2 separate regions of the Homo sapiens genome follow, and region 1 is linked to region 2. Evidence: fine-mapped expression QTL. A gene starts in region 2. The other region holds a variant in brackets. All regions are shown on one strand. Distances are between the middles of the regions.

Region 1 (5,365 bases), 23 kb before region 2:
TCCCGCTCCCGCTCATTCTTGGTTAAATGCATCTGTTTGAGGATCTGGGAACGCTGCTCCATCACCAACGTCTTCTCATAGGTGTAAGCTGAGATGTCGCTCTCATGCTGTGGGCAGACAGAGGTTGGGGTTGGGGGGTGGGGAGAGGAACACGGAGGAAAGCATGAGGTCTGAGCCCAGGTGAAAGGCCAAGGGAAGGAAGGAAGGCCCCCGTCCTTCTGGCAGCCTAGGGCTTCCCTACCCAATCATTAATTTTGTCAAGGGTTGTAGGAGGCAAGGACGTAGCAGAGAGGGCAATGCTCTTGCAAGGCAGGCAGCTCATTCCCTCCTCAGCCCAGCACAGGACCAGGCATATGAATGGATGAACTAATGAATGAGTGGATTAATTAATCACCTGGGTGAATGGAGAAGGGAAAGAAGAAAAAGAACAAAGCGATGAATGAATACATGCAAGAATGAATGGGAGAGTGAGTGAATGAATACTTCAATGAATACATGGGTAGATTAATGAAAACACAGAGGGATGGGTGGATGGACACATGAATTGAGAGGATGGTTGGACAAGATGCTCTACAGGATAATCACCAGGGGCACACGCTCTAGAGCCAGCCTGCCTGGGTTTGAATCCTGCCTCCACCAGGTACTCTGTGTTATTGGGCAAATTACAGTCATATGCCAAATAACACCATTGTATGTGCGTCAATGGCAGACTGCACATAAAATGGTGTTCCCTTAAGATTACTGTATTTTTGCTGTATTTTTTCTATGTTTAGATATGTTTAGACACACAAATACTTCCCACTGTGTTGCCATTGCCTACAGTACTCAGTAGAGTAACATGCTGTATAAGTCTGTAGCATAAGAGCAATAAGCCTTTGTGTGTAGTAGGCTGTACCAGCTAGGTGTGCATAAATACACTCTATGATGTTCACACAACAAAATCACCTCACAACACATTTCTCAGAACATATCCCTGTTGTTAAGCAATGAATACGTGACTGTACTTCTCTGCACTTCATATTCCTAATCTGTAACATGGAAATGCTGATAATTGTATCTATCTCATTGGTCGTTGTTGGAATTTATGTACATATAAAGTGCATAGAACAGTGCCTGGCATATAATAAGCACTAGACATGGCTACTTTTATAGAGAAGGGAGGGATGGCTGAATATGTGAGAGGCTAAGAGATGGATGAGGGGGAAAGGATCCAGCATCATAAGCTGATGGGTGTTAGAGTTGCCCTACTTGGTGCTGGGGCCAAGAGGAAAGAGGGCCAGGTGGAACCCCAGCGGTGTCTCCTGGGGACTCACCATCTCCACCACCTCGACCTCCGCAGTGATGCGTAAATGATACAGAAATGTGGTCAGATCCTTCTTCATCTGGATGCTATTGTCATCCATCTGGGCCACAGTGAAGATACGCATCTTGCACTTCCGCCAGACCTGCAGGCGATGAAGGGGATTCAGAAAGGTCCAGCCCAGATGTGATGAGGAGATCCAGGGCCAGGCCCTGTCCGCTCACCCTTCCCCTCTTCCCACCCACTCCTCACACATACATGCAGACCCCAAATCCTCTGTCTTTGGGGCCACTCTCTACAAAACCTTCCCTGCTTAGGTCTGAGGGTCCCCCATTAAAGAAAGCATCACTGGCTTGGGCTAAGCATTGCTCTCCTTACAGCAGTGCACCTGCAAGAGGAGAAACCATCAGTTCCTAACATCTCAGAATGAAGTAGGTCAGCAGATCCCTTTCCCAGGAGTTTACAGGGGAGGAAGGACACGGAAGCTGACCCTGGCCAGAGCCCCTGAGTCTGACCTGCAGTTGTGCACATATGCACACAAATGCATACATGCATACACACACTCACACGTGCATACACTCACGCACACAACTCACCTTGTGGTGCCGCAGCAGGAAGGGCAGCAGCATGAGCATGCCTCCATCGTGCACAATCCACCAAACGTCGATGCTGCCCTCAGAGAAGCGCTCAGGGTTCCCAGGAAACATGGAAACGTTCTTGGTGACCAGCAGGGCTAAGTGGCCAGCTGTGGTTTCCCGGACCAGCTCTGAGGGAGGCCAAGGAGAGGGCCAGAGGGGGAAACAGTGACTCTGGTTCTCCCAACACCCAGCAGCAGCCACAAGGGCTCCTGGCAGCCAGCACTCCACCCCACTCCAACTGGCCTTGGCCATGGGCTGAGTGGTCAGAAAACCAGCATCTACTTGGGCCCCATCATATATTTATTGTTTAGATCTAGGAACGTCTATCAACCTCTCTAGGCCTCAGTTTCCCCACCTGTCAAATGGCAATAACACCACCTGCCCTTTCTGATTACTAAGAGCCCATCATGTATGACCACACTGAATCCTCCCAACACCTTGTAACCATGATCTACCTATAAAGGAGACAGAATAGCTTGGAGCTAACAGTGTAGCCTCCGGGCTGGTTCAAAACCTGGCTCCCCACTTTGTGACTTGGAGCAAACTTCTTTTTCATTTACTCTGTAGTTTGCCAGGTTGCCCAGCTCAAACTCCTGAGCGCAAGCGATCCACCTGCCTTGGCTTCCCAAAGTGCTGGGATTACAGGCGTGAGCCACCGAACCCAGCTGGAGCAAACTTCTTAATCTCTCTGTGCCTCAGTTTCACATCAAAAAAGATGGAGATAACAATGCGTAGCCCTCCTAGGACTGATGAGAGAATCAGAGAAAGCCTTAACTTGCTGGCACACAGAACTCATTCTAGAAACGTTAGTTATTATATATACTATTACCTACGATTACCAAGAAATCTGATCTCAGAGGGAGTGAGTCA[C/T]GTGTGCACAGTCACACAGCTAGGAAGGACCAGAGCTGAGATGTGGGCCTAGCCTCTGTGACTTCAGAGCTGTAGCTCTTCCCACTGCCCTGCACTGTGTTCCTCCCAGGGCCTGTGAGCGCTGCAGGAGCCAAGACTGTCTCGTTCACAGCGGAGTCCCCAGCGCCCAGCACAGTGGCTGGCACGTGGCCAGCCTTGACTGCTGTCACCTGCATATGCTGAATCCACACTTGGCACGCAGTGCTTGGGAAACCCCTCAGGCCCAAAGGAGCGGAAATCCAGTTCCACCCCTCTACAGCCCCCAGCCCCACCCCTCTTCTGTCCCCAGCCCCCAATAGCGTTACCAATGAAGTTCCTCCACGTCTGATGATCTTCCTTCTGGCGCCAGTTGCGGGGCCAGCCAACAAGCACAGTGTTGTGCTGCAGCCCCCCGAGGCCCCCGGACTGGATCAGATGGGACACGCCATCACGCAAGTTGGAGGAGATCACCACCTGGCAGAAGCCCTTCACCTTCTCTGCCTCCATCAGGCGCCTGATAGACTAGGGGAGGGGGAAAAGACAAGGACCAGCCTCAGGCCTCCCTGGCCCTGGCTGGGCCCATTGTAGCCTCCTTCCCTCCCATCTCTCCCCTCCTTTCATCCCAATCTTCCTGAAGCTCAGCTCTGATCACGTCAGTCTCTGGCTCCAGAATGGCACATGGCTCCCCATCATCTCTGTGCCCCATTCCTTCTTGATCAATCAAGGCTCTTCATGATCTGACCACACTTTCTGCCACCCTCCCACTGCTCATACAGCCCCCCTGCCCGACATGCTCTCCACCATCACCCTGACACAAGCCCCTGCCAAGTTGTACATGACACCCTGTCTGGCCCAGCTCAAATGTCGCCGTCTTCAGATACCACCCCCACCCAGACCAGAATTAAACTGGGCTTCTCTGCACAGCCAGACAATTTGTTTCAACAATCTTTCTAAGTAGCATAATAAGTATTTTAAGGGCTCCCATTTAAACTGTACTATGAGGGAAATAGTCTTATTACTCCCATTTTATAGATGGGGAAACTGAGGCTTGGAGAAAGGAAGACTTGTTTAAGGACACACAGCTAATGTTACTGTGAGGATTCAAGTCAGGGAAGTCTGACTCCAACCCCCACACTCTTAACCACCACCCCTAAGTCAAACAGATAGAAGTTCAACTCCTATCTCTGCCACCTCCTGGCTGTGTGACCTTGGGTGAGTCACCTAACCACCCAAGGGGTCAGGACAAGCTACCTTGTTTAGGAATAGGGAGAACCACATGTCATCATGCACATAGGGCTTAGTTAGTATCCTGCCTGAGGAATTGAAAACACTCAACACATTGTACGACCCTGATGTTATTAACTCTAACAGCATTTATCGACATCCGGTGGGTCTGAGAGCCTTCTGTGTATGCTCTGCCTTCCCCACCAGCCTGTGAGCACCTCGAGGGCTGGGACTTGGTCTTGAACATCTCCATCTCCCCTGTGCCTCGCCCAGTGCCTGGTGCACTGCACATTCTCAGCCACCGCGTGTTGAATGGAACTGACCAGTCAAGGCCTCCAGCTCTGGGCCCTGACAGATCAGTGTGAACAGCCCAGTGAGGCAGAAGCAGCGACTGTCGCAAGCCATCGGGGTGCCCCTCCCCATCTCACCTCTGCTCCTTCGGGCCTCTTTTTCTCTCTCCACTGCTAGCCACAGCCCTGATGGGAGAAAGGCCTGACCCTCAGACAGAACCTACTTCCTCTACTACCCTTGGGATCCAATCACCTCTTTGTGTGCTTAAGGCAGACACTGGCCACCACAGCCCACATTGGTTCTGTAGGCTGCCCTGTAAGCATGGACTAGTGGGTGGAACCAAGAGCAGGTGACACAGAGCAGGGGCCTGAGTTCAAATCCTGATGTTGCTTCCCACCAGCTTTCTGACTTTCAGCAAGCAGCTTTCCGACTTTCAGCAAGCAGCTTTCCCTCTCTGGGTCTCAGTTTCTTCCTGTATCAAATGTGGATACTCACCTTGTCAACCCCAGACTGTAGGGATCAAGAGTCCACAGCTGGGAAATCACCTTGAAAGATTTATACTTTGGCAGGAAGGAGTCTAGAGTAGGAGTTCAAGGAGTCCTAATTTGAATCTTCATTTTCTGTCCTTAGACATATGACCTGACTTGTCTAAGCCTCAGTTTCCTTATCCATAAAATGGGCCCTTCTGCCTCTGATGGTCTTTCATGCTGTGAGTTGAATTCTAAAGAACTCACTGTCTAGGCTCTTAGGCTCTTCCTCTAAGGAAAAGAAAAGAAATGCCTGCACTTCCTTTGATCCTGAAGGTGATGAGGAAGGAAAGTACAAAAGGATAGAGACTGTCTTCCTAAGTGTCCTGACCTTTTCCCAAGCCCAACCAGGGCCTCTGCTCACCTCTTCTGCCCGCTGGGCCTGTGGATGATTTTCCAGAAAGGTGCCCTCAAGGACAGAGCCCACGATGGTCAGGCCCTTCCCCGCCTTCAGCTGGGAGGTCAGTGAGAGCAGCTGGGGGTGCACCACATTCTGG
Region 2 (5,365 bases):
GGCCGAGAGCGCAGCGCCGAGCCTAGCCGGCCGCGCGCCCGCAGCCGCTTATGTAACGCGGCGCGCAGCGCGGAGCCAGACTCCAGGCCGGATCCGGGCCAGGAGATGAGGGCAGGGGAGAGGGCGGCTAGGTAGGCTAGTTCTGGGTCCCGCCTTTCCAGTAGCTGCCTGGGCGGGACGCCAGGCTCCCGGGACTTGTCAGCCAGGGCTGATTTCGTCCCCTCCCTGAACGCCAGGCGCACTGGTTGAGGGGGATGGGGAATGAGCTTCCGAGTTCTCAAAGGACCAGAACAGCTAAGGGGAAACTCGCCCTGATTCCCCGGAGCCAAGGAGTAAGGGTGATGGCGGGAGCGCCGAGCGGCGCGCGCGCGAGAGGCAGGGCCAGACTGAGGCTGAGCCCTCCCCGCCCCCGCCCCCTGGGAGCTCTCAACCCGAATCGGCTTTCAATTAAGCTGCGGCGGCCAGAGCTCCCGGGGAGGAAACAGGCGAGCGGCGCAGGCTAAGAAGCCTCCCCGGGGCCTGGGGCTGGGCCTGGGGGAATCCCTAGGCCAGGTCCGAGAGGGAGACGGGGCGTCAGACCCCAAGGAGAAAGAAGACCGGGACACATCCCTGGGCTCTTCTTTAGTCCAGAAGTGCCCTCTTGCTCGGGTCATCCCCACCTGCCCGAGGTCAGCAACCAGTTCCTTCCCGTACATCCCCAAGAATCTAGAATCAGAGATGTCAGGGGCTCTTGGCCTGATGGTCCTCTCTCAAGCCCAGAAGGTCCTTAGCACCTCCTACTACCATCTCCAAGCACCGCTTGGAGGAGGGGGGACTTCTCTCTCTGGGACCCACAGCACATGACCCAGGTTCTGGCCATTTGAGTTCCAGGTCCTGGACCCTATGTATAGAAAGAAGGTCTCCAGATGGGTCCGCTGCACTCAGTGTCTAGAAACTAACGGAGAGGGGATAGAACTGAAGCGAGTTCCTAGTTCAACTCTTGCCTCACACACACTGATGCCTCTTTTCTAGGCCTCCTGAGCCCCTGTGGAAACCCCAAGGCCTGGTGAAACCTTGGCAGAGAAAGCGGGTGCTGGGAAATGGGACCATACCTGGTGTCTGAGGGAACAGAGAGATGCTCTCCATCTGAGTCCCCCTCTCAGAGTGGAGGCATCTGAAGGGGATCCCGGATGGAAAGATCCGCGTCGGGATGCCTGGCGCTGCCGCAGACTCAACTTTGCCAAACCCCCTCCCCCTCCGGCCAGAAGCCCGCGGGGGAGGGGGCGGATGCTGGATGAGGTGATCCCAGGGTCACTGGGGAGGTGGATGAGAGGGCCAGCTAGGAGTTCTGGCACCTGTATACCACTCAGCCCCCAGGAGGAATGAGGAGTTGCGGGAAGCGGCGGGGGGTGGGGGGGAGTCAGACAAAGGATCAGGGACCCTGGTGTCCCCAGCCTTTCCAAGCGGCCACTTGGCCCTGAGATCCAGGATCCGGAGGACCTCAGAGTCAAGGTTGCCAATCCCTAGAAGACCCTGCTCTTTCAGCCCTAGGCGCCATCCGCCAGAGGGATCTGCGGGAGTCTAGGCTCATAGGGTCAAGCAGTGCCCAGGGGAACGTTTGAAGGCGCTGAGCGCAGACAGCAGGCGCGGGAGGCGCGCTAGTGCGCAGGGGACGCAGCGCCGCTGGAGAGTGGGGGGTGGGGGTGGCTGACAGCCGTGATGGATGGCTGAGACCGCTCGGGGGCGGCGGGGGGCCTGGGAGCCTGAGGGGGTGGCTGGCCCCAAGACCTCGGAGCAAGGAAGCCGCGGAGGAGGGCGGGGGAGAGCGGGAGCAGCGAAAGGACTTGTCCCAAGCCCCTCGGCTCCTTGCGAGTCTCCGCACCCACCGCAGCGCGTCCGCAGTGTCCGCGTCGCGGCGCTGAGGAATCAGCCACTGGGACCCCATTTCTGAGGCCTCACTGGGGAAGCTAGCAGAGCTAACTAAAAAGACTCCCCCCCGCCCCGCCCTGGACCGCCCCAGGGAACTGAGAGGAGGGGGAAAGAGGGAAGAAAGGAGGGTGATCTTGCTTCCCGTCCTGAATAGGAACCCACGGGAAAGCGAGAGAGAGATTCTGCAAAGTAGAGCTGAAAATCTATGGAGGAAGTACGCTTCAGTCTGAGGTCGGACCTTGGGAAGCCTTGGGGGAGGGGTCCCAGATTGCACCAAGGGGACAATCTGGGTGTCTTAAGGAGACACCACAGCCCGGACGGGGGGCTGTCATATGGCTCCAAACCCCCTACACACACACACACACACACACACGCACACACACACATACGCACGCGCGCGCACACACACACACACACACACACACACACACAGCCACCTCTTCCCCCATCTTCCAGATGGAAGTCTTAGAACGAGGGACTGCAGCAGACTGCGCCCCCCGGCTCCACGGGTGCCTGCTCTGCGCCAGGACGCCGGGGTCCCCTGTCGGGGAAAGGAGCCCTCCTCCCGCCGTCGAGCTCCACATCAGCCCATTCTAGGTCTTCTATCCCCTTCCCACCGCCTCCTCGGTTTAGCTAACCCAAGTCAGCCCGAAGCCGTGGGCAGCGATAATCCCCCGGCCCGCAGCTCTGCCCCCGGGCGCGGCGCATTCCAGCACCTTGGACAGCGCCCGGAGCATTCCAATGGAGCTGAGCTCCAGGCTGCAACTGGCGCCCACCGCCCGGGTCAGTCCCAGCCTCCTCTCTGAAGGAGGTGGCCCCCGCTCCGCCTCTAACCCCAGAGCTGCCTCCTCTCCTCGCTGCCCCCTCCCCCGCCGCCCCCGGACCACAGCTTACCCGGGTTGGCTCCCCCATCGCCGTCCTCGCAGTCCGTCAGGTTGTTTAGCATGGTGGCGGCGCGGCCCCTGGTCCGGGGATGGCTGCGCCGCCTCGCCCGCGCCCCTCTACCCGCCTTCGCCGCTCTCTCGTTCGCTGTAGCTCTGTCTCGCTCTCCGCTCCACGGAGGAAGAAGCTGCAGTGCCCGCCCGCCCGGCGCACACACACTCGCACACGGACACACGCTCACACCCGCGCGCGCCCCCTCTCAGCAGCGGCGCTGCTCACCTCATCCCGTATGCAGGAGGCGTGAGCCACTGGCGGGGTTTTGGGGGGAGAGCGGGAGGGAGAGAGAAGAGAAGATGAGGGGCGGGCAGAGCCCGACTAGTGGCCCCCTTGCACAAAAACTGGGGGATTGCGTGGGTGGGATGAAGGGGGTGCTTCGGGGGACAGGGCCTCGCCTCCCTTGAGCAGACGCAGCTCCCCCCACCCACTCTCCGGGCGGGGCCCGGCACGTGGGCAGGTGCCATCCCGCGCCCTAAAAATAACGGCAGGGAACTAGGTCGCGGCCGCGGGGAGGCGGCCCCGCAGCGGCTGCTTGACTGGGGGTCTGGGGTAACCCCCAGGGGGAAGATAAAGGGCACTGAAGTGGCCGTGGAGGTGCGCCATGGAACATGGGGCCCTTGGGAAGCCTCTCTGCAAGACTGGAGAGGCCAGCCCTGAAGTGGGGGAGGAGAACCAGACCCTCTTTCATACCACTGCTCAAGAGATTGGAGCTGGAGGCATGTAGAGCCCAGGGCCCATAATTAAGCAATGTGCTACCCCCAGGGGCGTTCAGGTCACTGGGCTGACTGACCCAATCTGTCTTAAAATGGGTGGGGTAGCGCCTGAGAAGTTCCAAGGAACTCTCTCATTGTGCTTAGACTGACAAGAGTCCCAGCGTCCCACCCCCAAGACAAGTCCCTGGAGCCCACAGCCAGGGACCTTCTGACTGCGGACTGATCTAGAGATAAGACCTGGTGAGGAGGAGCAGAAGAGGCAGCAGTGAGTTTCCAGGGAGCACTGACTTTCCATCAGGGATGGTGCAGCCTCTAGGGAGGACAGGCCGGTCCTGAGGCTGGCCAGGGACAGAGTGGGGGAGGGCGGAATGAGGCCGCCTGTCGGTTTGAGACCAGATTTTCTCCTGGGGCAGAAGTGTCTAATCCCCTAATCCAGGATTGCTTTCTGAGGCTTCCAGAGCCGACATGCTCTCTGTCCTCCTCCCCTCTTCCCTTAGGCCAATCCCCCAGAAGCTTGATCATCCTGGGACCCCTCAGAGCCCCTAGAGTCCAGGTTTGAGCCAGTGGTGCAGACATCTCAGGAAGTGGCATCAGAGGTTTGAAAGCTTTGAGTCTCTAGAAGATCTAAACATCTGAGGGTGGGAGCAGATCGGGGTAAACAATCTTCACACTGGTACTAGCTCTCTCCCTGGCTCTCTAAGTTCCAGAAAAGTTCTTCGGTTGGGAAAAGATCAGTCATTGTATCTTACACACAGCTTTCATTTCACAGATGAAAAAACTAAGGCCCATAGAGGGAAAATGACTGCCTGTGGACATAATGCCAGTGGATGGCAGAATTTGGTCTAGCATCCAGTTTGCTTTACTCCAGTTTAGGACTCTCTTCATTGATAGAACTTATAAAAGTCGTCTTGCCTCCATAGAAGAGACAAGGATGCAGTCATATCCATGCCCCTCAGCAGCCTCTGATTATTAGCTCCTGAAAAACAAACAAACAAACAAACAAACAAACAGGCACTACATCTGAGATGTGCTTTATTCCTTTTCTTGTGCTCAGGCTTCAGAGGTGCAGGGCTAGAATGGACTCTTGGCTTGCAACTGAAGGGGAAGCCTCCAGAAAACCTGCAAAAATCCTAAAGAGCCATTCATATCCCTGGAGACCGGGGTATAGGACAGGACTTTTTTCAGGACCATGGACAGGATCCAGGGCTCAGCTTTACTTGTATTAATACAATTTGTCAGTGGCTTCAGATTGGGTCAACCGTGGAGTTTTCAGCAGCTGACTCAAAAGTGCCTCTGAGGGACCTACCAATCAAGTATCGCTGCCACTTGGTTTTTTGGATACCCAAAGGACCTTTCAGGGTGGAGAGTTAGCTATTCAGACAAGTTGTGGGCACTGGTATTCTTGGCTCTCCCAGAGAAAAAAACCACCAAAAGGGTGAGATGAGTTTGAATTGGTGACAGAGGTTAAAAGAAGCCAGTGTTCAAAAATTTTTAAGCATGCCACTCCACTCTACACACACACAGCACTAGCAGCAGCAGCAGCACTGTGTTCTACTACTCTGCAGAGATGCATAACAGTAAAACACGTGTAGCATGTTTGTCAGAGAAGTGCTGTAGAATGAAGGAGATGCTAAGGTTTTTCAGTAATCCTAGGTCTGGCATGTTCCCCTGGGGTTATTTTCCTTCATTTGTGGTCCAGCTTTGGCCACTCAGAGACTAAGCCCATGCATGGGGAAACCTAGATTCTAGGGAGTACGGGTGAAGGCAGGAGTGATTCCTCTTTCCCTGGGGAACCCATCTGTCCA

Direction of the effects. Alleles are on the strand shown, and positions count from the first base shown. SD is a standard deviation of normalised expression in the study named.
For the expression in hippocampus of the gene that starts at base 2,984 in region 2, allele C in region 1 goes with a lower level than allele T (small effect, 0.18 SD a copy in GTEx).

The links. PIP is the estimated chance that this variant, and not a neighbour inherited with it, causes the effect.
Region 1: its variant is the best candidate, but not a certain one, in a credible set for the expression of SLC12A5 in hippocampus (GTEx, PIP 0.62).

The regions. Positions count from the first base shown.
Region 1 is chr20:46,049,658-46,055,022 of GRCh38, reverse strand. It overlaps SLC12A5 (solute carrier family 12 member 5), which reads right to left. Exons shown (of 26, transcript NM_020708.5): 17 at 5,233-5,365; 18 at 3,153-3,348; 19 at 1,897-2,066; 20 at 1,314-1,445; 21 at 1-107. Among named protein-coding and RNA genes, the nearest start is that of SLC12A5, 23 kb to the right of the region's middle. The variant C/T (reference allele first, on the strand shown) is at 2,809.
Region 2 is chr20:46,026,834-46,032,198 of GRCh38, reverse strand. It overlaps SLC12A5 (solute carrier family 12 member 5), which reads right to left and starts at 2,984. Exons shown (of 26, transcript NM_020708.5): 1 at 2,803-2,984. The coding sequence starts at 2,854.